Linked DNA regions of Homo sapiens: all the other regions are linked to region 1. The links come from fine-mapping of genetic effects on gene expression. A gene starts in region 1. Each other region holds a variant in brackets. All regions are shown on one strand. Distances are between the middles of the regions. Region 1 holds the start of GLIS3 (GLIS family zinc finger 3). Region 2 overlaps GLIS3 (GLIS family zinc finger 3). Region 3 overlaps GLIS3 (GLIS family zinc finger 3).

What was found. PIP is the estimated chance that this variant, and not a neighbour inherited with it, causes the effect.
Region 2: its variant is the best candidate, but not a certain one, in a credible set for the expression of GLIS3 in thyroid (GTEx, PIP 0.52).
Region 3: its variant is the best candidate, but not a certain one, in a credible set for the expression of GLIS3 in adrenal gland (GTEx, PIP 0.73).

Annotation. Positions count from the first base shown.
Region 1 is chr9:4,295,122-4,303,306 of GRCh38, forward strand. It overlaps GLIS3 (GLIS family zinc finger 3), which reads right to left and starts at 4,947. Exons shown (of 11, transcript NM_001042413.2): 1 at 4,300-4,947. It overlaps GLIS3-AS2 (GLIS3 antisense RNA 2), which reads left to right and starts at 4,180. Exons shown (of 4, transcript NR_186824.1): 1 at 4,180-4,302. RefSeq lists an enhancer at 1,948-2,242.
Region 2 is chr9:3,842,092-3,850,276 of GRCh38, forward strand. All of the region lies in intron 9 of GLIS3 (GLIS family zinc finger 3), which reads right to left. Among named protein-coding and RNA genes, the nearest start is that of GLIS3-AS1, 52 kb to the right of the region's middle. The variant C/T (reference allele first, on the strand shown) is at 4,955.
Region 3 is chr9:4,086,102-4,094,286 of GRCh38, forward strand. The region is part of intron 4 of GLIS3 (GLIS family zinc finger 3); the gene reads right to left. Among named protein-coding and RNA genes, the nearest start is that of GLIS3-AS1, 190 kb to the left of the region's middle. The variant C/T (reference allele first, on the strand shown) is at 4,695.

The DNA.
Region 1 (8,185 bases):
AATGAAAAATCCCAGCTAAAAGTTGCAAATGAACAGTTCAATACTGAAACCAGGCACTTACTTTTTTTTTTATTATGGGGGTTGCTGGCCCTCACGAAAGGACGGTGAAATACACTCTGGGTTGCCTTAGTGGAAGGAACGCCTCTGAATTTTCCTGCTTCCTACACTGGTGTCACATTAGACATTTCACTTGTGTCTGTTTGGTCTCCCTAACCAGACTGTCATCAGAATATAAATATGGCTTCAGTTTGGTTAGTGTTTTTCCTTAATTCTATCATATTAAGTAATGCCTCACTAATTTCTGCAAGCCAGACTGTTTCCATCATCTTTAAAGGGGGAGTCCAAATTATTTGACCTAATAAAAGGTTGTTGTGTTGAGCGAAAGAAGCCAGACCCAAGAGTGCATATTGAATTATTCCATTTACACAAGATTTTTTTTAAAAAAACCAGACAAAACTAATATATCTGTTAGAAACCAGGGCAACGGTTACCTTAGGCAGAGGTGGTAACTAGAATGGAGTGTGAGAGATGTTTCTGGTGTGTTGATAATGCTCTGTTTCTTGATCTGGAGACTAGTTATGTGGGTGTGTTCCACTTGCAAAAAAATGCATCGAGCTCAAGATAAGTGTGCTTTTCCGTAAGGATATTTCATCTCAATAGAAAATTTGGCTTTTGTGTCAACTCTGCCTAAAGTAAGTGGGAAACTACAAAAACTGGGGACTTGGACATCTTTTAATCAAACTATGTATCAATGTCATTTCAAAGGTTTTGTTATGTGTCATCTTCCTTGAATGAGAATGGCAACAAGTTTTTTTTTTATCACACAGATTTCCTATGTGCCTTTTTTCCCCAGTCCTGATAGTCTATGAACCAACCAAACTTAGGGAAAAGTAAAACAGTTAAGTCCTGTATTTCCACCTTATTTACAATATAATGCCCTCTACAGAAAATAATCACAGAAACACAGAAAATGACTTCTCCAGAGATGAGAAATGTGCATGTGACGCCACTCTGAGTTATCTCCTTCAAGAAGTATGTATTCTATAATCTGGGAGAAGAGTAAATTAACACTCCAACTCCAAAGATCAATAATTATAATATGAGAGAGACAACAGTGGAAAGAATGAATGTCCTCAGGCTTAATTTACTAGCAGGAAAGAACAGTCAGAGGAAAAAAAAAAAAAAAAAAGACCGAGAACACTGAGCTCTCTTCTGGAATGGCAGAAGGACCACTTTCTCCTGCATAAATGAAGGCAGGGCTAATACAAAACGTTTTCTGGGTATTATTTAACCTCTCCTACCCAGGCTATTTTAGCTCAGTAGGAAATTCACCCACTAGGTGGACCTTGGAGTTCATCCACCACCCCAATAAAGATTGCCTTTCTTATTTGAAGTGATGATCACTTCTTCCAAGCAAACCAACAAACCCTAGGTATTCAACCTCTGATAACCTGCCTACTAAGGAACTTCAGTGGAATCAGGGGATCAACGATGCTGTCCCCAAACTGGCCTAAGGTGAACCAAGGGGAGAAGTTAACAGCAGCACTTAAATTGATCTACTCATACTCAAGGATTACTGAGTCTTCTGGGCAAGAAAAGAAAGCAATTACAAACTACCAATAAGGACAGGTGTTTTGAAAATAGCGAAAAAAAAATGTCCCCTACACTTCCTTTCAAAGGTAGCCTCAGAGCTAGTCTGGCTGCGCAGATGACCAGTGAAAATAAATGAAAACTGCAGTACGGTTATAGATGATCCTTACACCTCAGCTTGTTCTCAATTGCAAAAAAAAAAAAAAAAAAAAAAAATGCATATAATCTAACACTCTCCTGTCTAAATTGCTTCAAACTTTCTCAGAACGACCTTCATCGTGGCGGATTCTTTTTCTGCAAACCTTTACAGGTTGCACCTGCTTCACACAGAACCAGCGGAAACAAACTAGGAGGAGATAAAAGAGAAGAAGTAGGAAGGTTTAAACCAACACAAGTCGATTTTGTACCCAAAAAAAAAAAAAAGTTTAGTCTAAAAAGGGAGGTCCAGTGAGGAACAAGACAGAGGGTGAAACAGAAGTCTGGCTTACTCCCAAGGCAGAAATCATGACTCATCAAAGCTTTCAGAGGGGACAGAACCAGACTTTGCATTTGTCTTGAGGTCATCTTCGAGCCAAGAAATGCTCTCTTAACCGGGACCTGAGAACTTTAAGGGTCTGCGACAACTGGCTGTGAGGCCTTGGGCAAAACCTCTAACGTCTCTGGGGCTCGGTTTCCTCATCAGGTGAAGCCAGGGTCCACTCTAGCTTTAATAGTCTCTCCTCGAGATTCCCGGCCCCATACTAAAGGGACCTGGTCCACTGGGGGGAGCTGCAGAACTTCCCTCTTCTCACAAACTCCAGGGCCCTGGGGCCCCAACTCTCGGGAGATGCTGAAGTCTTGGAGGAAGTTGGTTCTGCCGGCTCGGGGAGAGGGTGCAAGAGCAACCCTCTTTGTGAAACGGGGCCGCGACTCCACGAGTCCTGTCTCTACGGACCCTACTCCCTGTGATTCCGGAAGCACCTCCCTACCCCTTCCCCAGGTTTACATGCTCCAGAGATGAGGGCCAAGCGGATACCGGGGCAAACTAGCGTGGGGCTCAAGGAGGCACACAGAGCAGTGGTCTCAGTCCTCGAGACCACTCCTGCCAAGAGGAGGGCTGGAGAAGTCGGGAGAGGTGCCGGGAGCGGGGGAGAGGCGCGTAGGACAAGGCAGGAGGAGGGCGGCCCTTATCGGTTCCCTATAGGACTGGCTTCGCTGCCGGGGTCGGAGATTCCTCGGCGCGGAGCTAGGGGCGGGTCCGGAGGCGGAGGCGACAGCGCCCGGCGGGGTACGCGCGGCTGCGACCCCGTCACTCCCCCGCCGCCTCCGCCCCTAACCCTCGGCCCCGTGCGCGAGCGAGCGAGGGAGCGAACGCAGCGCAACAAAACAAACTAGTGCCGGCTTCCTGTTGTGCAACTCGCTCCTGAGTGAGTCGGGGGCCGAAAGGGTGCTGCGGCTGGGAAGCCCGGGCGCCGGGGACCTGCGCGCGCTGCCCGGCCTGGCCGGAGCCTGTAGCCCGGGGGCGCCACGGCCGGGCTCGCAGTCCCCCCACGCCGGCCCCCCGGTCCCCGCCGAGCCAGTGTCCTCACCCTGTGGTTTCCTTTCGCTTCTCGCCTCCCAAACACCTCCAGCAAGTCGGAGGGCGCGAACGCGGAGCCAGAAACCCTTCCCCAAAGTTTCTCCCGCCAGGTACCTAATTGAATCATCCATAGGATGACAAATCAGCCAGGGCCAAGATTTCCAGACACTTGAGTGACTTCCCGGTCCCCGAGGTGACTTGTCAGCTCCAGTGAGTAACTTGGAACTGTCGCTCGGGGCAAGGTGTGTGTCTAGGAGAGAGCCGGCGGCTCACTCACGCTTTCCAGAGAGCGACCCGGGCCGACTTCAAAATACACACAGGGTCATTTATAGGGACTGGAGCCGCGCGCAGGACAACGTCTCCGAGACTGAGACATTTTCCAAACAGTGCTGACATTTTGTCGGGCCCCATAAAAAATGTAAACGCGAGGTGACGAACCCGGCGGGGAGGGTTCGTGTCTGGCTGTGTCTGCGTCCTGGCGGCGTGGGAGGTTATAGTTCCAGACCTGGCGGCTGCGGATCGCCGGGCCGGTACCCGCGAGGAGTGTAGGTACCCTCAGCCCGACCACCTCCCGCAATCATGGGGACACCGGCTTGGATGAGACACAGGCGTGGAAAACAGCCTTCGTGAAACTCCACAAACACGTGGAACTTGAAAAGACAACTACAGCCCCGCGTGTGCGCGAGAGACCTCACGTCACCCCATCAGTTCCCACTTCGCCAAAGTTTCCCTTCAGTGGGGACTCCAGAGTGGTGCGCCCCATGCCCGTGCGTCCTGTAACGTGCCCTGATTGTGTACCCCTCTGCCCGCTCTACTTGAAATGAAAACACAAAAACTGTTCCGAATTAGCGCAACTTTAAAGCCCCGTTATCTGTCTTCTACACTGGGCGCTCTTAGGCCACTGACAGAAACATGGTTTGAACCCTAATTGTTGCTATCAGTCTCAGTCAGCGCAGGTCTCTCAGTGACCTGTGACGCCGGGAGTTGAGGTGCGCGTATCCTTAAACCCGCGCGAACGCCACCGGCTCAGCGTAGAAAACTATTTGTAATCCCTAGTTTGCGTCTCTGAGCTTTAACTCCCCCACACTCTCAAGCGCCCGGTTTCTCCTCGTCTCTCGCCTGCGAGCAAAGTTCCTATGGCATCCACTTACCAGGTAACCGGGATTTCCACAACAAAGCCCGGCGTGCGGGTCCCTTCCCCCGGCCGGCCAGCGCGAGTGACAGCGGGCGGCCGGCGCTGGCGAGGAGTAACTTGGGGCTCCAGCCCTTCAGAGCGCTCCGCGGGCTGTGCCTCCTTCGGAAATGAAAACCCCCATCCAAACGGGGGGACGGAGCGCGGAAACCCGGCCCAAGTGCCGTGTGTGCGCGCGCGTCTGCGAGGGCAGCGGCGGCAGGGGGAGGAGGAGGCAGAGGCGGGGTGGCTGGACCCTCGGCATCAGCTCATTCTCCCCTGCTACACACATACACACACAAATAATGTTTCTAAAAAGTTCAGTTGCGACTTTGTGCCTCGCCTGTCCTGTTCATCCTCGTCCTGGGCCGGGGAATGCTTCTGGGGGCCGACCCCGGGATGCTGGCTAATTGCTGCCGGCGGGTTCCGTCGCCGGTGTGACCCTGGACGGCGCGGACGGCGTACAGGGGGTCCCGGGAGGGGCAGTGGCCGCGGCACTCGCCGCCGGTGCCCGTGCGCGCCGCGCTCTGGGCTGCCCGGGCGGCGCAGTGTGGACGCGGCTGCAGGGAGAGGGGAAGGGGGAAGAGGGAGGGAGGAAGGCAGCCGGGCGAGGAGTGTGGATGTGTGTGCGGCCGCGAGGGCCGGCCTGTAGCCAGCTGCTTCCTGAGTGTGAGCGCCGGAGGGGGAGGGGGAAGAGTGGGGGCGGGCTCGCGGGTCACTAGGCTGGCCAATTCGAAGGCCGAGCTTGTGTCTCCCTCTTGACGCATTCACACACACACACACACACACACACACACACACACACACTCCCCGTGCGCCAGAAGTCGAGGAACTCCAGAACAGGGTAACAGCAGGGAGACACTTCGCCTTCTTCCTGGCCTTATTTGTTAAACTGACTTATTTTAACATGAAAAAGTGTTAGTGTTTAGACAGGATTTGATGTCAGGTCATAAAAAAATAAACAAACAACCAAAAAAATCCGGTAGTAATACGGAGAGAATAACACAGTGAAAAATGGCAAAAGGGTTGCTTTGAAATATCGGATCGGATGCACATGACAGCTTCGAAACTGGATAGGTGAAGCACTAAGGAAGGCTTTGGCATCCTTTCCAAGTATAGGCAGGGAAGAGAGGAAGGTGATGGAAGTGTTAGAAGGGTATAAAATTCTGAACACAGGCTGTTAAGAATGGAGGTATATTCCCTGCGTATGTTACGTCTATAAAGTGGCACTTTATCCTTATGAATTCAACATCCTCAGCCTCATACCCCACCTAAGCTCTGACTCGCCACCGCTTCTGCTTGTGTTGACCAGAGCCCTCAAAAGGTTGTTACAAGAAAGTCTGCTCCTAGTAGTTCATCACATGTATTGCCACAGATGCAAGGACTTCCATCTTGGGAATCTAGGTATGTAATGCACACAATATCCTCCAGGTAGGCCTTTCTGCAGTTGACAGTATTATTCACCATCATGAATGAAATGAGTGAGGATGCCACCAGACACTTAGAATTTCACAAGTCCTTATATTCTATTCTACTGTTACCACTCCAATATAAATTAGCAATCAGGTAGTAGATGCTTTGATCAAGACAGAAGTCCTCAAGGACACAAATGACTTACCCCAGAAAGCCAAAACTAAAAGACTATTGGCAGTTTTCATTTATCTAATTTCAGTGGGAATACTACTAGGCTTGGTCTGTATCCATGATATTAACATAACCAAAAGAAGCCTGGTTTCCACAGTACTTTTTCTTTTCTTTTCCTTCACCTTGGGACACAAACTCATCAGAATATTTGTCAGCAGAAGTAGGGGATGAAAAATAGTAAGAGGTCAGGATATGTCATTCTGTCAGTTTTCCAGTTTCTCTCTGTTCATCTCTTTTAAATACAAGTATTCAAGCCCAAGATGGCAATAGATGGGCTCAACCACACGTAAGAAAAGAAAATACTCATAAAATGAAGCATGCAGCAACATCACAAAAACAAAGAAACCAAGTGGTGGAAATTGCCATGACTATTCCATTGTGGCTAGTTATTGCAACATGCCTGACATTCACATAAAAACTCTTCCTCATTAACTCCAGCCTTAAGGAACAGAGCAAGATGGCAACACTAACCCTTCAATGCATCATGGGAACTTCTGTTCATCAGATTCTTGTGCTGTACAACTGCTTCCCAGGAGCAAGACAAGCCTGGGTGGAGACTGCAAAAAACCTTTCCAATGTCCCTCAAATATCATTTTAAATACAATGGTTTTGATGCATAGAATGGTATCCTAGGGGCTTGCAGAAGCTTCTAAAACTTCCCAAATGATGGGAACAGCTTAGCTGGAAGAGAAAAAAATATAGTGCTACACCCAACTTTAATCAATAGCTCATGGAAAAAAACACTGGGAAAGTTAGGAGTCATCAACCTGGAGATCCCCAAAATCTCTTCATTTATAAGAGCCCAAGAGTGGGAATGTCATTTTATTTAGGTGTGATTTTCATGAACCTCTAACATTCCTAAAATATTTACCACTGAAGAGGTATAGTGCTTTGGTTGAATTTTTTTCTTTTTTTTTTTTTCTGGCCAAGAATGTAGATCTGCAATGTTCTTATATTCCATGGGTTATAGTAAAAATGCAGTTGTTCTTGTACCAGTACAACCCTGGAATGACTCAGAATGAGATCTGTACCTCTTCTGGGCTGAATTGGTCAGCAGGGGTGAGGGAGGGTGGTAATGAGAGACAGTGAGAAAGGAAATCATGTAGTTCCAAAATGATACTCTCCCTTACCCATGAGCTCTCCATCGTGCTTAGGAATCATACTCTGGCAGCCCTTCAGCCAGATAGGTGGGAACTGCAGCCCAGTCAGTATCTTCCCTCTCTAGAGACCAGTGTTGTATGTGCCTCAACCGCTGACTCAGGGCAGCTGACTCAGCAGACAGGCCCCTGCTGCCAGCTCCAGTCCAGTTCTCATTCATCAGAGAAATATTCAGTGAGTACACACTCTGTCCAAGTATTGGGACTAAAGGAATTAACACTTGTAGGCATTGTATATGGGAGGATATTACAGAAAACTTTTTGCCCAGTGTCTTAGTTGTAGCAAACCCTCAAGAAATGGGGACTCTTTGCATATATTACCTCATCTAATTCTCAAATCAAATGTATGATGTGGCTATGAATAATCTCCTACTTAGAAGCAAAGAAGTTGAAGCTCAGTAAACAGTTAAAGAGAGTCAGAGACAGAGCCAAGTATGCCAGTTTAGAAGCCCCAAGTTCAATCAACATTACTGTACTACAGAATAATTGTGCATGCTCTTTGAATGTGTATAAAACATATTGCAGGTGTATAAAGTGCAAAGCATCTTGTGGTCAGTGTTAGATGAGCACAATGAAGTTTGTAGGGAGTGTGGAGGAGGCAGGAATAATTTCCTGCAATGTGACATGGAGTAGCTTGGCTGTTTGAGCTGGACTTCAAAGAATGAGTAGAGAAGTGATAAGCAAAGGAGACCATTTCAAGTATAGGAATCAGCATCAAAAGGGGCACAGAAGGCATAAGTCCTGCATAGCAAGCAGCTCACTCAAAGCTAGAGTACAAAATAGGAACATCCACTGTCTCACAGCAATGAAACTCTCCCGAAGGAACATCCTGACAGCAAAACTTCAGAACTGCTATTTGAGTCACCCTGAGTGCTCTGACAGTAAACCACTTACAAACTTGCAAAGAACTATGATCAGATTCCTCCTCCCACAAAGTGTCCGTGAAAAGAAACAAATTTGAACCCCAAAATACAGATAAGTTGAGCTAATAGCACCAGTGATAGTATGCCTAGCTATTAAAACACAGACACACACACACACACACACACGAGCTGGCAACAGTCC
Region 2 (8,185 bases), 450 kb before region 1:
GATTACTAAAAGGAAGTGCTGCTGCATCTCAATTCCCTTCAGCCTCCCCTGAAATCTGTGTGAGCCAGCCTGGTTCTATAGCTTTTTAAAAGACTTCCCCAGCTGGGTGCGGTGGCTCACATCTGTAATCCCAGCATGTTGGGAGGCCGAGATGGGTGGATCACGAGGTCATGAGTTTGAGACCAGCCTGGCCAAGATGGTGAAACCCTGTCTCTACTAAAACTACAAAAATTAGTCTGGTATGGTGGTGGGTGCCTGTAATCCCAGCTACTCGGCAGGCTGACGCAGAAGAATTGCTTGAACCTGGGAGGTGGAGGTTGCAGTGAGCCTAGATCACACCACTGCAGTCTAGCCTGGGGGTCAAAGCAAGACTCTGTCTCAAAAAGACCTCCCCAAGAGATAAAGGGAGGAGGAAGCTAGAGAGTCTTAACCTCTTGAGTCACAGGCAAATTGCTTCCTTTGGGTTATCTCCGACTGGGGAGCCACGGTGAGAGGGCATTGAGCCCTACACTTGGTGTCTAGGCCAATGATTCTTACCAGGGTTGGGGGGCATCAGCTCCACCTTGGCATGTGTGTTGAACATGCACATTCCTGAGCTCTACGGCCGACTCTGGAAGAAGTGCCTGGAATTCTGTATATTTAATAAGGTATTTCTTAAAAGTTTGAGAGGCTCTAAGAGAACATCTTTAGATGATTTACAAACATCTGAAAGTTTTCCAAGTGAAATACCAATTTAAAACAACAACAGAACGGCTCTAATTTCATTTGAAATGGAGAGAGGGAGTTCTTCCCATGGGCATCTCTTCCCCTTGGGCAGGCTCCCAGCCCTTTCTGCTGGTAGATGGGGCTCTTGGGGATAAGGTGGTGATGATTGTTCCAAAAGGGCCTTGAATTACACTCTCAGTAGATATGGATCCAGATGACTTGCCTGGCTCTCTCTCCCAATGCCTGTCTCTCACATGTCAGTTCTTGGTCAAGGTGAAATCATGGGACCTAATTTGAGTGACTCAGAAGTCTTGTTCTCACTGTTGGTCCCATACTGATCTTGTGGCTTAGACTTCTGTTGTCCAGCTGTAACCAAACTCCCACATTACATCCGCTTTACTAACTAGGTGATTTTTTGCTTCTTCGAATCCGAGTCTGTTATTACACAAATTTCCAGCACTCTAATCTAAAAGTGGGCCCCTACCTCATCCTTGCCAGTGATCCAATGACTCAATTATTTTTCCCTCCGAACCTCTGCTTCATAGCTGAGTCTCTATTATATATGGTTAGGCTTCCCCAAAACCTACTCTCTGGAACATTATGTTAAGATTACATTTGGGCTTGAAGTAAGAGTATGGAAACCTATATAAGTGGCTTTGAGATAGGAAAGTGGATGTTGTATTTGGGAAACCTGACATACATCACTGGATCCCGGGATCTCTGTTATCTCCATCTGGCTACCAGGAAGCCTGCCTTTGTATCTTGTCAGGCATTCATCCAACAAGTATTTATTGGGCAATTTCTGTATACCCATAGTTACTAGGCACTGATAAAAATTATGTATGTAAGAGTGATTTATAAAACATATATTGATATATGAATGTAGGTACTGCCACTGACCTCATGGGTATTGACAAAAATACCACATCAGCCCAGATCCACAGATGCAAAGAACCTTGGGTAATTATTTGGCCAATTCAGATTCCCTGAATGATTTTGTCACAATGGCAAGGAAATTTAAGAACTTATTTTGGGATGTGTGAGATGAGGTTGGGTTTGGTGATGAACGTAAGAAGGGAGGGTTCAGTAGTCATACTTAAGTGAACTAGAAAAAATACCGAAATGTTTTTATTTCAATAGACTTACATCTTGTAAGGCCTAGTTCTCAAAGACCTCACGAAAGAATGACATAAAGAGTTTAGTCTGAACAATCTGGTTAGAGAGGGGAAATTCCTGTAATCAGAAAGAGCACTCACAATTCTACGTAAACCAACGAGAAATTTTAAGGGAATTGGGATTGTTTTGTAACATGTTGCTGAGCTCAGAGGCTGTGAATGGGGACAGATCAAGCCAGTTCTAGCATTCTATTGTTTTTGTTGTTCTGTTTTATGAAGAGAGTGGCCTCGCTACCAGCAACCCAGATGTTCACTGATGTATTTTAAGGAAGCTCCATCTATAGCTGTTACATTTTTTTCTTCTTCTAAACCATCAATTGTTTACCATATTTATAAGGGTAATTCCAGTTTAAAATATAAGAAATATAAGACATAGATTGTCATTAACATGTTTAGCCCTGAAGAGTCCAACAGAGGAACGCCTAGAATAGTGTTATCAGAAAAACAATTAATTCATTTTAAGAGTTCCCTTCATTAGAGGCCAACTTCATGAGTTTCAGGTATAAGAACATTTGCTTCTAGAAAGATGTCATTACTTCCCCCAAAGAAAGAAAAAGTGCTAAGTCTATAATAATATTAATTAAACACTTTCTATAGGCATTTTTAAGTTGACTGACGAAGTCATGATGGTCAATGATATAAGGGATTTTTCTGGATATTTCTTTCTCATCAATAAATTTCTGAGTTCCAATCAGGAAAACAAACTGTCTTGCTGCAAATGACACAGCTTGACTGACAGGGTGAAAGATACTTAAATAATGTAAAAACCCAGGTCCTAGCTCTTGTTATTTAATCCCTGTTACTATTAATACTGTCTTTAAGTGTTCAATGAAAATATAAAAAGATGCTCAATTACATTACTAGCTAAAGGAAAAATTAAAGCAAGTCACCAATCTTTGCTTTACAAATCGGCAAAATACTAACATTCAGTGTGAGGAAATGGGCCCTGTGATGTGCTGCTGATGAGAGTCTAAATTAGTATAGCCTTCCTAAAAGAGTATGTGTCAATACCTATCCAACTTTAAAATGTGCAACTCAGTAATCCAGCATTTTCTCTTTTAGAAATATTTCCTAAGAAACTGTGCAAAGATATATATATATGTGTGTGTGTGTGTACAGGAGTGTTTATATAAACATGCATATATATATGAAGAGATTTAACAGAATTGCTAGAAAAAGTAAAAAATGAAAAAAATGTTCATCAATAAGGGAATGATTTAAAAAATGATGACCTATTCTTATGAGAGCTGTACAATTAAGAAGACTCTATATGCAATGACCTGGAAAGCAAAAGCATATATTTGACTAAGTTTAAAAAAATCAAGTCATAAAACAAAATATAGAATGTGAGGTGCAGAACGTGAGGCCATTTTTATAACAGGGCATATGGGCATATACATAGACACAGTTATGTCTCCTTCTATGAGCATTTAAAAAGGTCTAAAAGAATACTTGCCAATCTTTTAATAGTCATTACCTTTGAGCAGTGGAATTGGGGCAAACATAAGGCTGGGAGGGGACTTAAACTATAAGTTTCAGTACTGTAAGGACTTTAAAAAACTGAACAAGGAAAATTTTTCTTTTATAATATAAAAAGTCAGTAAGAATTTGTAAATTGTATGTAAGGACTGTGCTAAAAGCCCAGGAACCCAGGTTTGTTGATTTATAATAGTAATTAGGCTTCCAAAGTTTCCCCCAGCATACCCGTACTTGAGCAAGCACAGTGCATAATGGCATGTACACATACACACGTGCATGCCCACGCACGCACACACACACCCACACACACACACAGTGGGGTAATCCCATTGGGAGCCGTTAGATAGAGAGCTCTCCCCTCCCCATGGGGACAGCCCCCAATCAAAGGCTTAATAGCAGCATTGCAGAATGGCTAAAAGCACAACTCTGGAGTCAGATGGTCCTGGGTGCAATTTCCAGCTCCACTGTTTCAAGATTTAAAACTTCTGGGCACCACAGTGATTTAGATTCCCCACCTGTAAAATGGGAGTAAACAATGCCTTCTTTATAGTGTTGTTATGGAGGATTAGTGAGCAAGGGCATGACAGGCATTCACTACACTGCCTGACACAGAAAAAAGTGATTTTTCAGCTATCAGTGTCCAAAGACATGCAGTCAAGCAGTTGGTGGGAAATGACTTCATCTTGCAAATCACAGCACCTCTACTGACAGCAGAATGTTAACCCTATAAGGAACCGCATATTTATGGTTCCGTACTTAACTTTCAAGCAAAAGCAATTCCCAAGTAACTAAAAATTTCCATAATACTGTATCAGTAGGCACCACCACAAAGTATGATTGTGGGCTTTGGGGTCAGACTGGGTTTATAAAACCACCTCTGATACTCACTAGGTATATGAGTTAGGGCATGGTACTTAAGCTCTTCCATTGTCTCACCTGGGAGGTTGCTCTGGACTTGCTCAGAGCACCAGGTATCTGATACACAGTAGAAAAATAACAATAACAGCTGCAATGACGTGAGCATCTACTGTAGTCCAGGCATTCTCTCATTCTTGTGCCAAGTCTGAAACAGGGGTGTCAGTATCATCTATTAAACTTGAGAACCTCAGAATCAGGGCATTGCATGACCTGCTCATAGGATTCCAGTTAGTAACTGCCATCTTCTTGCCTCCAAACTGAAAATGTTTTCTTAAGCAAAGGACTGGTATCTATGGGCACTGTGAATTCCTCACAATCCCTCTTCCACAGGGCTGCCATGGCCCAGAACTTTACTACCACACACTCAGTACCAGCTGTGTCTCAGTATCCTCTTTTATTATGCAGATACTGACAAGAAGCAGTAATATATTAAGTTTACCTCAATGTGTAAGTGAATTGTTAGTTCATCCTATTTCCTCTGGGAAGAGGTCTCAGGCAGATGGTAAGCACTGGGTATTTAAAGATGGGGGCAGGGCCTGGCGAGGTGGCTCATGGCTGTAATCCCAGCACTTTGGGAGGCTAAGGCAGGGGGGTCACCTGAAGTCAGGAGTTCAAGACCAGTCTGGCCAACATGGCAAAACGGTGTCTCTACTAAAAATATAAAAATTAGCCAGGTG[C/T]AGTGGCAAGCGCCTGTAATCTCAGGTACTCGGGAGGCTGAAGCAGGAGAATCACTTGAGCCCGGGAGGCAGAGGTTGCAGTGAGCCGAGATCGCGCCTCTGTACTCCAGCCTGGGCGACAGAATGAGACTCTGTTTCAGAAAAAATAAAATTAAATAAATACATAAATAAAAAAAAATAAAATAAAGAGGGGGCAGAGAAACAGGCAGGAAGTGCCCAGAGAAAAGAGGGGCCCAGATAAACTTGTCTGTAAGTCACAATTTTGCCAAGGACTGGCTCTGCCAATCAGTCTAAGAAGCCATAAGCAAAAATCCCTTTATTCTTGTCTTTTCTTTCTGTTCATTCGTATTTATTTAATGAGCAGTTATTAAGCACTTACAGTGTGCAGAATATTGTGGGACAATGTAGTCCCTGTCCTGAGACTTACAATTTAGCAATAGTTGATTCAATCATTTAATACTCATATTCATCAAACATAGCACATTAATATGGTGAGTTTAATCTGTGTGGGTGCACATGCACTCATGCTTGTGTGTGCAGATGCTTAGTTATATATGTAGATTATTCACAGTTCAGTCATTTCCATAATCAATCATTCCAACACCTTTTCTGGTTCACATGACCATCTCACACCCCTTCCACAAAACTCAGCATGTTGAAATGCTTACTGCACTCTGCATATACACCTAAAATTAACTTTTGTTTTTTAGAATTAGAACACAGTCTGAATTTCTCAAGTACTACTTATGTAAAACTGTTCTTGGGGTAATTTTGTAGTAATTAAGTATATGAGAGTAATTAAGGACTTCTCCAAATCTAATCATCAATCCCTGGTACTGTGTAAGCGTTAATAACATCATGGCTGATATGGAAAATTATTCCTGATTATGACTGCTGATGATAACATCAGAATAACATGAAGTTCACTCATCGGCTCATTTCTTTTGTGAATATGTCACAACTTTCTCCATGAAATCTATTACAATGTTGATTTATAATCAATTATATTTATCTTTCTGGGATTTCAAGATGTGACACAATGCTTAAGTTCTAAGCAATACAATTTCTTGACTTACTGCTTTATTATTTCATAACCTCATATATGCAGTTATGATGAAATTTTCTGTGGGAGTGTTTACTGTCTTTAAAATCAGCCTTTAAAAACAACCTCTAGGCCGGGCATGGTGGCTCATGCCTGTAATCCCAGCACTTTGGGAGGCCAAGGCAAGTGGATCACCTGGGCTCGGGAGTTCAAGAGCAGCCTGGCCAACATGGTGAAACCCCGTCTCTACTAAAAATACAAAAAATTAGCTGGGCGTGGTGGCGCATGCCTGTAATCCCAGCTACTCTGGAGGCTGAGGCAGGAGAATCGCTTGAATCCAGGAGGCGGAGGTTGCCGTGAGCCGAGATCGCCCCACTGCACTCCAGCCTGGACGACAAGAGCGAAACTCTGTCTCAAAAAATAAATAAATAAAATAAAAATAAAAATAACCTTTAAATATTTAACACTATAAATTGGCAGCAGCGAAATCAGTCATGGCTACAGCCCATAGGCATCTTGCTGGAAAGTACCATTGCACAATCACTGTGAGTAAACAGCCAACTGAGGAAGAAGTTAGCTAAACTTGTACTTGCCACCTCGCTGCCATTTAAATATCAATGCTCTGATATTTCTACAGTTTGAAAGATGCTTTGGCTCTTTGGTGGGACAAGCCATTTACAATGTGTTTTGTTCTTGGAGTCCTGTTGGTGGCTGGAAACCCTTTGTTTCTTGTTGCAGTCAATTTGAACTGGACTGACAAGCTTACAGCTCCAGACTGAGGTAAGAAAATGCCACCATTGTCTGGGAGCTGACTGGCCTGCTTTAGGAAGCCTGCAGGCAGGGCATGCTTTAAATCATGGGAAAGACAGCTCAGGAACCACAGGAGCCGTGAACAACAGAGGGAGGGCGCCCCCTTCCCACTGCTGCTGCACTGATTTCAAACAGCCCAGGCTGAGGAGGTAGCTTCATGGTGTTTTCCTAACGAAATCTAGTAAGTGGTACATGGATGACAGAAATCTCTGTGTTGGCAACTGGAAACTCCAGAGGGATGCAAAATAAGAGCACACAGTGGAAAGTACGGAAACCTAAGAGAATGGAAGAGATGGGAAAACATGGGGTAGTCTACCCCGACTTCCAAGGAAGGATATGAATGAATCTGTCTGTGATTAGTCCCATTTTACAGATTAGAAAACCATCCTAGAGTGTTTGGCAGCCCCTCCGGTGTGCCTATCCAGTAAAAACTGTGAACGGAATCTCCGTTTTGTTAAGTATGGCAATGCGCTAAAATATCCATCTTCCCTGACCCCTTTGCCTTGTGACTAAGAGTACGCTTGTCCTTTACTCTTCACCCTCGTCTCTGCCTGAAACTGGGACAAGATGTGTAGAATATCAGCATTCATGCTGTGACCAGGAGGATGGAAGCCACCTGTTAACAATGACAAAGCACAAAGTTGGGAGGAGGCATGGGCACTGCTGACTCTGTGAGGCTCCTTCTCCACCTTGCACTGTTTCCTGTTAGACGTCTTGTCATGAGAGAAGGCTAAGGGCGGTGGCTCATGCCTGTAATCCCAGCACTTTGGGAGGCTGGGGCGGGTGGATCACTTGAGGTCAGAAGTTCAAGACCAGTCTGGCCCACATGGTGAAACCCCGTCTCTACTAAAAATACAAAAAATTAGCCAGGCATGGTGGTATGTGTCTATAGTCCCAGCTACTCAGGAGGCTGAGGCAGGAGAATAGCTGGAACCCAGGAGGCAGAGGTTGCAGTGAACATAGATTGCGCCACTGCACCCCAGCCTGGGTGACAGAGTGAGACTCCATCTCAAAAAAAAAAAAGACATCTTGTCATGAGAGAAGAGTAAACTGCACACTGGGGTTGTTGGTGCGGTTGCTGTAACGTGATAAATGAACCCCGAAAAATCTTGTCCTCTGCACAAATGTGTATTAAAAATAAGGTCTTTGAGAAATCTAAAATTGGGTCAGACCACTGAAAATCTTTGATACCTTCTAATTACAGCAGTAATAAAATATCAAGAGGAAATTTAGGCAGGCAGTTCAGTGTGGCTATAGGCTCCTGGGTGGTTATTAAAAATCACACAAAATAGACTGGAAAGGCTGGCTTACAGGTACTGAAACAACAAGTGATAGCAGGGCCCAGTGCACAGGAAGGCGTGTGATCTGCCATGAGCTGA
Region 3 (8,185 bases), 210 kb before region 1:
CTCTCACAATTTGACCTCAACCACCAGATGTAACTACCACTGCACATACCCTACTCAGACATGTATTTTCAGTATTCTATGTCTTTGAACATATCACTCTTTTGGCATGTAATTTACTTGTCTCCACCTCAGTCTAGTGAAATCCTCATCCCCCAAGTCCCAACTGAAGAATCATGACCTCTATGAAACTTCCCCAACCCCACCCTGGGGCAATGAGTCATTCATTCCCTCCTCTGAGTTATCACAGCACTTCCCCATATCTCCATCACATCGCTGAATATGTCATATTCCAAGCCATAACTTTATGTATATCATACTGTGAGCTCTCAGAGACCAGGATCCTATTCGTGGTATTCCCACGACCTAACACAGCACCTGGCACATATGCAGAATGTTTATTACATTGGGGTGAATTCAATAAAATTGAAAAAGGATCTTCCAGAAAACAAATCTTTAACAATCAGTCAGACACAGGAAATTGTGAAAAGCATGTGTCTCCAGAGAGGAAGGATGACGGAATGTGTTAAGAGACGGACTTTCCACTGTATGTCCTTTTGGAGAGTTTTAGATTTTTTTACCATGTAAATGTACCACTTGTCAAAACAGTGCTGAGCAGGCTCTACAGCATGTGCCGGGCACTGTGCACAGGAGGGACTTTCAGCATCATGAACAACTTCACTAACTAGAGAGAGCCATGAACTTGAATAACCCCTGTGGAGATTAATCTCTTTTTCCCCTCAAGTCCCACAGAGCCTTGCTGTTCTTCAGTTGTAGCATTCTCCACAGTCTAACTGATAACGGCATGATTTAGAGACATGTCCTCCACATTGGACCTTGAACCCGTAGACGGCAGAGGCTCCCTACTCTTCACCTCTGCATCCTCTACAAAATCCTAGTTTAGTGCTATGTGTACATGTGGCAGTCAACTTGTAATTGTTTAACTGAGTTGGACTGGCCCTGAAAACATGGCAAAGTCTGAAATGAAAATAAAAGGAATAACTATATTTGTTTGCAGCCAATAAATCATGTGAAGTGGAGGCAAAGAAGACAAAACCTAAAATATTACTAATAAGTAATAATAATAAATACTAGGTGATTATGGTCAGATGAGTACAGAGGTAGAACAGCTATAAAAATGTATCAGCTGTTTTTTCATCCCTTATTTAGGCCATGGATAAACATTTATTATTCCTTCTCCACTTGCGGCAAAACATACTTTCAAGTGAGAGCCTTAAATAGATGCACATCCAAAGCTGTACAGAGCTACTACTGAGTGAAGATGAAAAAAGTTTTGAGATGAAAGAAGAAAAGGAAAATGGATTCTGAAATGATAGCCTCATAAACAAAACAGGAAAACAATCGGCAATTTCCTGATAGATCTAAGGCCTCCCTCCTCCAGTGAAAATACCCCAACTAGAGTCTTTAGTGCCAGGGAACAGTTTGAAAACCCCATGATATGGAGAAAAGCAAAAAGTACAGGATGTGGGCTCTGGCCTCATAGAGCTTAAAAATAGAGTTGTATTAACACCCACATGAAAAGTTAAAAAACAACAGATTTAAGGGGGAAAGGTGGTACATCATCATAAAATTCATATCGGTGAAAAAATATTCATTGAGTACCTAATACTGAAATTTTTAGTATTCATATTCCTACATGAACTAAGGGTAAGGTACCAATCCTGCTACACAGTCCAGGCCTGACCGCTTCCTCCATGAAGCCTTCAGTTTCTTCCCACTCACAGCCACAAGGAATTATTCTCTTTGGCCCCTCAACACAGGAATTTATCCATACCTTGGTTACCTCACTTCTATTGTCCATCTCGCATTATGGTTAGTTATGTACATGGATTGGCCCCCAATGAACTTTAGACTTCCCTAGACAGACTCCACATGTCATTCATGCACTAACAACTCCTCAATGCCTTTGCCATAGTCGAACTCAGCTCACTGGCTAGACAAGGTGTGAGGATAGCCATGGCAGATCTGGGTTTGTCTTCAACCCCAACATAACCTACAAGAATTCAACTTCTGAAAGGGAGAAAGAATAAAGAAGAAGGGAAAGAAAGGAGATGAAAAAAGAGAGATTAGTATCATGTACCTCAATCCTTCTATCGGGGCACCTGCCACACTTAATTTAATTTACCGACCTGCCTCCTTTTGGGAGAAGGCATTGGTTTTTATTTACCTTTGCAGTCCTGTGGGTCTAGCCCAATCCTTGGCATAAAACATATGCTTAGGCTAATAATTATTTGGTGAATCCAATAATTAAAGAAGAGAGAAAGGTTGGAAAAATAAATGTTCTCATTTGATTAGTGCCCACTGAAATGAGAGATGAATGACAGCCAACAGAAGTACAATCCTCCCTTATTTTCCTTATCTTAAATTGGTCCTAAGTGATTTAATCTTGTGTCTGTCCTTAAACCAACTTTGAAAGATTACAAGTCAAAATTCACAGGAAAATTATCTTCTTATTTCTTAAAACTGGCTAATCCCCATTGTAGATGGAATTCACTTCAATAAATATTTACTGAGCACCAACTATATATTGGATGTATTCCTAATGCCAGAGAGTAAAGCAATAAATGTGACCTTGTCCCTTCTCCTCAAGGAACCTACAGTTTAGCGTGGCATTCCTTGTAAATTTTAGTGCCTTTTACTATGACGGAAATAAAATTATGTAGTTTCACATTTATGAAGTCCCACATTTTAAAGCCAAGGCCAAAATGGATATTTCTTTTCAAAAGTTGAGATACTTCACAGCCAAAATCCTACATGGCAGGATGCCAGTCCAAAGGGCTTCACCCCAAAAGGCCTGTCTTCATTCCTCGAGAAAAAAATGGAATAGACAGCTCCTCAGATGGAGTTACCAATGACTTAATTTTGACAGAAACATCTATATCCATGAGCTGTGTTAAAACAAAGCTGGTAGAAAGACTTTCCCCAGCAACTTGCTTTAAAACAAACTGTAAATGTTTGCTTTACTTTTATTTTTTATGAACTAGTCCCAAATATTTTGATGTGGCCTAGTTTTTTATGTTTCTTAATAATCCAAATATTCATGTCTGTCTCAACTGCAGTGTGGAAGTTTAAACTCAGGTTTTGTGGGGATGCACTGATCCATTGTATAAATGGAACAGTACTAACAAGACACGTATCACCTCTGAAAATTGCTGTTTAATGTTGGTATATCTCAAAACTGAAAAATGAAGATGTCTAAACAGTCTCATCTTGAAGAGTGGATAACATTTTTTTTTCCTTTACAAACGTTTTAAGAGAAAATGTATATGTGTGTGTATGTTAATAAAAAACTGTGTATTTACATACACGACCTTACAAATTCAATCAACATAAATATGAAAAAAGGAAAATATATTATTATTATAAAATTGCTGAGGAATTATTAATGAAGAACATTGCCAAAATGTTAAAAACATAAAAAATTGGCCATGTGTAGTGGCTCACACCTGTAATCCCAGCGCTTTGGGAGACCCAAGCAGGAGGATCTCTTGAGGCCAGGAGTTTGAAACCAGCCTGGGCAAACCCCATCTCTACAATTTTTGTTTTTTAATTAGCCAGGCATGGTGGTGTATACATGTAATCTCAGCTACTTGGGAGGCTGAGGTGGGAGGATCGCTTGAGTCCAGGAGTTTGAGGCTATGGTGAGCTACGATCATGCCACTGCATTCTAGCCTGGGCAACAAACAAGACCCTGACAAAAACAACAACAAAAACCCATAAAAAATTGAATTCTCAGGTGTCTCCACTAATTAGACAGTGACAAAGGGAAAAATCCACATTTCCGGGTGATCATAAAGAGGAGTATTTATTTTTGTTCAGACAAAGTGGTGCCTCCCACTGTGTGCCATGCCCACGGCAGAGGGGTGCAATGTCCAGAACTCTGCTCCTCGCTTGCTCCCTTCTGCCCTGTGTCAGTGGGTTGTCCTGCCTGGGCTCACAGGGACTGCAGGGGGTATGATTCCTATTCCCATACCAGCTTTGTCAAAGCACTTGTCCCAGAAGTGGATCCCATCCCTAAAACCCATTTTAGGCAGAGTTGTGACACAGGTGACTGGCATTGCCCCTTCCCTTCTACACAGGCCCACTGTCCTCATTATCTTTTGGGAAACACTAGATTTCTCCTTAGTGCTGCCTTCCTGCCTACAGCCCAACAGATTCAAACTGCGGTCCTGGCTCAATATATATTTGATTTGAGTTTAAGAAAAGCCCTTGAATTCATTCATCTCGAGGATCTAAAACTGATTCACGCTCAATAAAAACAAAATAAGACTTGGTTACAGTACCCAGGATGTGACAAAGAATCTGTAGTTTAGCCTTCTTTGGGACTTAAAGTTTAAAAAAAAAAAAAAATTAATGAGGCTCTCCAGGCAGAATCAAGTGAGACAAAGCTAAGGGCGGAAAGAAAAGGGAAAGCTTCCAAGTCCACTGAACACATAGCAGTTGGACCACCTGGTCCAAGACACAGAATCCCAACTGGAAACGCTCAGGGTGGCATTCAGGGCAAGGACACTGGAATCAGACAGGTTTAGGCTGAAATTATGGCTCCACCACTTGGTGGCCACGGCATCCAGTGTTCCTTAGTTTCCGCTAGTAGTAGCTCCCTCATAAGGCCCAGGGAAGAAGAGATAAGCTTAAGCACGTGAAGTGGTAAACATAGCACAAAACACACCCTCTGT[C/T]AACTGCTACTGCTGAGGTTGTGACTATTACTATTGCTGGTATGCTGGAGTCACTAGACTGTACATTCTGCAAGAGAAGTTTCATGCATAGCACAGTCGTTACAACTGCAGGTTCTAGAATCTGACTGCAAACCCTGGCTCAGCCATTTTCTAACTTAGGTAAGTTCCTTGAGCAATGTATTTAACCTCTTTGTGCCTTAGTGTCCATATATAAAAAGGGGGATGATGATATCCATTAAGTTGTTGCAAGTAAAGTTAGTATGTATAAAATGTTTGAGGCTGGGCATGGTGGCTCATGCCTGTAATCCCAACATTTTGGGAGTCTTGGGTGGGAAGATGGCTTGAGTCCAGGAGGTGGAGACCAGCCTGGTAAACATAGTGAGACCCCATCTCTACAAAAATAATTTTTAAAATGTTAAAAATTAGCCAGACGTGGTGGTGTACATCTGTAGTCCCAGCTACTTGGGGGTCTGAGGTGGGAGGATCTCTTGAGCCTGGGAGTTCGAGGCTGAAGTGGGTCATGATCAGATCATCACACTCCAGCCTGGGCAACAGAGTGAAACCCCGTCTCAAAAAAAATTAAGTTAAAAAAATAATTAAACGTTTGTAAGATTGGTACACGGTAAGCATTTTCCATTTATCCTTAGTGGAAATAAAAATAAAAACAATAATAATAAACACAGATCACTTACCATAAGTCAGGCACTTCATTAGACTACACGCACACGTGCACACAAACACACACACACACAACCACATAAGTATGAATGTGCAGTCATGTGTCGCTTAATGACAAGAATATGTTCTGAGAAATGTGTTAGGTGATTTTGTTGTATAAACAGCAGAGTGTACGTATGGCGAGCATCCCCCTTCGCTCGACTCTCACTTCTCCTTCCTGCCACCATGTGAAGGAGGATGTGTTTGCTTTCCCTTCTGCCATGATTGTCAGTTTCCTGAGGCTTCCCCAGCCCTGCGGAACCCCTCTTCTTTATAAATTACCCAGTCTCGGGCAGTTCTTTATAGCAGCGTGAGAAACAGAATAATACAGTAAGTATCTGTGTATCTAAACATATCCAAACATACTATGGTATGGTATCCAAACACAGAAAAGGTACAGTAAAAATACCATATAAAAGATAAAAAAAAATGATACACTTGTATAGAGCACTTACTAGGAATGGAGTCTGTGGGACTGGAAGTTGTTCTGGGTGAGTGAGTGCTGAGAAACGTGAGACCCTAGGACATTCCTGTACACAACTGTAGACTTTACAAATACTGTACACTTAGGCTACACTAAATCTATTAAAAATTTTTCTTTCTTTAATAATAAATTTATCTTACTGTAACTGTTTTACAATTTTTTTTTTTTTTTTTGAGACAGAGTCTCGCTCTGTTGCTCAGACTGGAGTGGAGTGGCGCAGTCTCGGCTCACTGCAAGCCTCGCCTCCTGGGTTCACACCATTCTCCTGTCTCAGCCTCCCGAGTAGCTGGGACTACAGGCGCCCACCACCATGCCTGGCTCATTTTTTTGTATTTTTAGTAGAGACAGGGTTTCACCATGTTAACCAGGATGGTCTCGATCTCCTGAGCTCGTGATCCGCCTGCCTCAGCCTCCCAATAAACTTTATTTTTTGTTTGATTCTTCTGTAAAAGCACTCAGTTTACAACACAAACACACTGTACAGCTGCACCACAATATTTCCTTTCTTTATTTCCTTATTGCATAAGCTTTTAAAAATTTTTTTAAACTTTTTAAATTTTTTGTTGAAAAGTAAGACATGAATACACACATTATCCTAGGCCTACACAGGGTCATGATCATCAATATCACTGTCTTCCACCTCCACATCTCATCCCACTGGAGGGTCTTCAGGGGCAGTAACAAGCCTGGAGCTGTCATCTCCCATAATAACAATGCTTTCTTTTGAAATACCTCTTGACGGAGCAACCTGAGGCTGTTTTATTAACTTTCTTTTATAAACAGAAGGAAAGCACTCTAAAATAATAATAAAACGTATAGTATAGTAAATACATAAAACAGCAACACAGATTTTTATTATCAAGTATTATGTGCTGTACATAACTATATGTGCTTTATTTTTATACAACTGGCAGTGACATAGGTTTGTTCACACCAGAATCACCCCCATGCACGTGAATAATGAATTGCTCCATGATGTGACATTAGCAATGACGTCAGTAGGTGATAGGAATTTTTCAGCTCCTTTATAATCTTATGGGGCCACTGTTGTATGTGTACATAGCCACTCTTTGACCAACATGTTGTTATGTGGCACATGCCTGCATGTATATTTAATTATCCTCATTTACAGATGAGAAAAATGAGGTACTAAGTGGAAAAGTAACATGCTGGCCTCACAGCCTGTAAGTGGCAGAGTCATGATTTAAATCCAGGCAGTCTGGCTCCAGAGTCCACGCTCTTAATCACTATGCTATGCTGCCTGGAAAAAAAAAAAAAAGTTAATATAATGAATGAATGTTCCTGCTGGAAAAATACTGAAAAGAGCCAGTCACTTTGCCCCCAGTGTTTGCACTGAGTAAGGCCCCCTCTTGCAAAGCGTGCACAAGGGAAGAACCAAAGCATGTGGAAGACAGAGGAGAGCAGACTCAGAGACTCGGTACTTCCTCCCTCGGGTTGGCAGGGGCTATTCAGCCAAAGCCTGAACAGAAGGGTGGCCTGAAGGCTTAAAAATAACTCAGGGTGCTGGCCCTAAATCCAAAGTCACTTGGTTTTCTAGCACATTTTAAACTGGCAAGGAGCAAATGCTTATTATGGGCTTGGCCTTCTAGTGGTATGATAAGGGGCTATAAATACTCAGAAGACTGGATACTGGTCTTGAGGAAGCTTATCACAGGACAAGGCACCTTCAGCTTCCTTGCTAACCCACTGGCTGAGTTTGATTTGTGTATCTGCAACTCTTCTAGATTGCAGTTATGTGTGCTGGATTTCATGCTGCTAAATATCTATATATATATTTTTAAATTTTAGGCCATTTAAGGCCAAACATGTATTCTTTGGCTATGACAAGACAAGTTGACCAGAAGGCCTTATCAATACTTCAGTAACCCTGAGGTCTCACCTTATAATACCTCATCTCAGAAACTGTGGAATTGTAGGTCAACTGTGTATTGAATCGATAATTTGCTGCTGTCTAGTTCTTAAGAGTGATTCATTGCTTTTTTTCATCATCCTCGTTGAATTCAGTTTCCTGCAAATATCTGAACTCTGGGTTCTTCCAGATCATCTGTTCCGTGGATGCTTCCCAATCAATGGCTTTAAGCACGTGAAAATCTCAACCAAAAATACCTGATGATAGACAGAAAGAGATGGGAGTGGAACATGGAAGAGAAGAGGAAAGCAGGAACGAGAGGAACTGAGGAAAACAAGCTGGGTCATCAAATTATTAAGAAGACAAACATTTCTTACCTACCAGATTAGTAAATATCAGAATCTTGCTAATATACTGTGT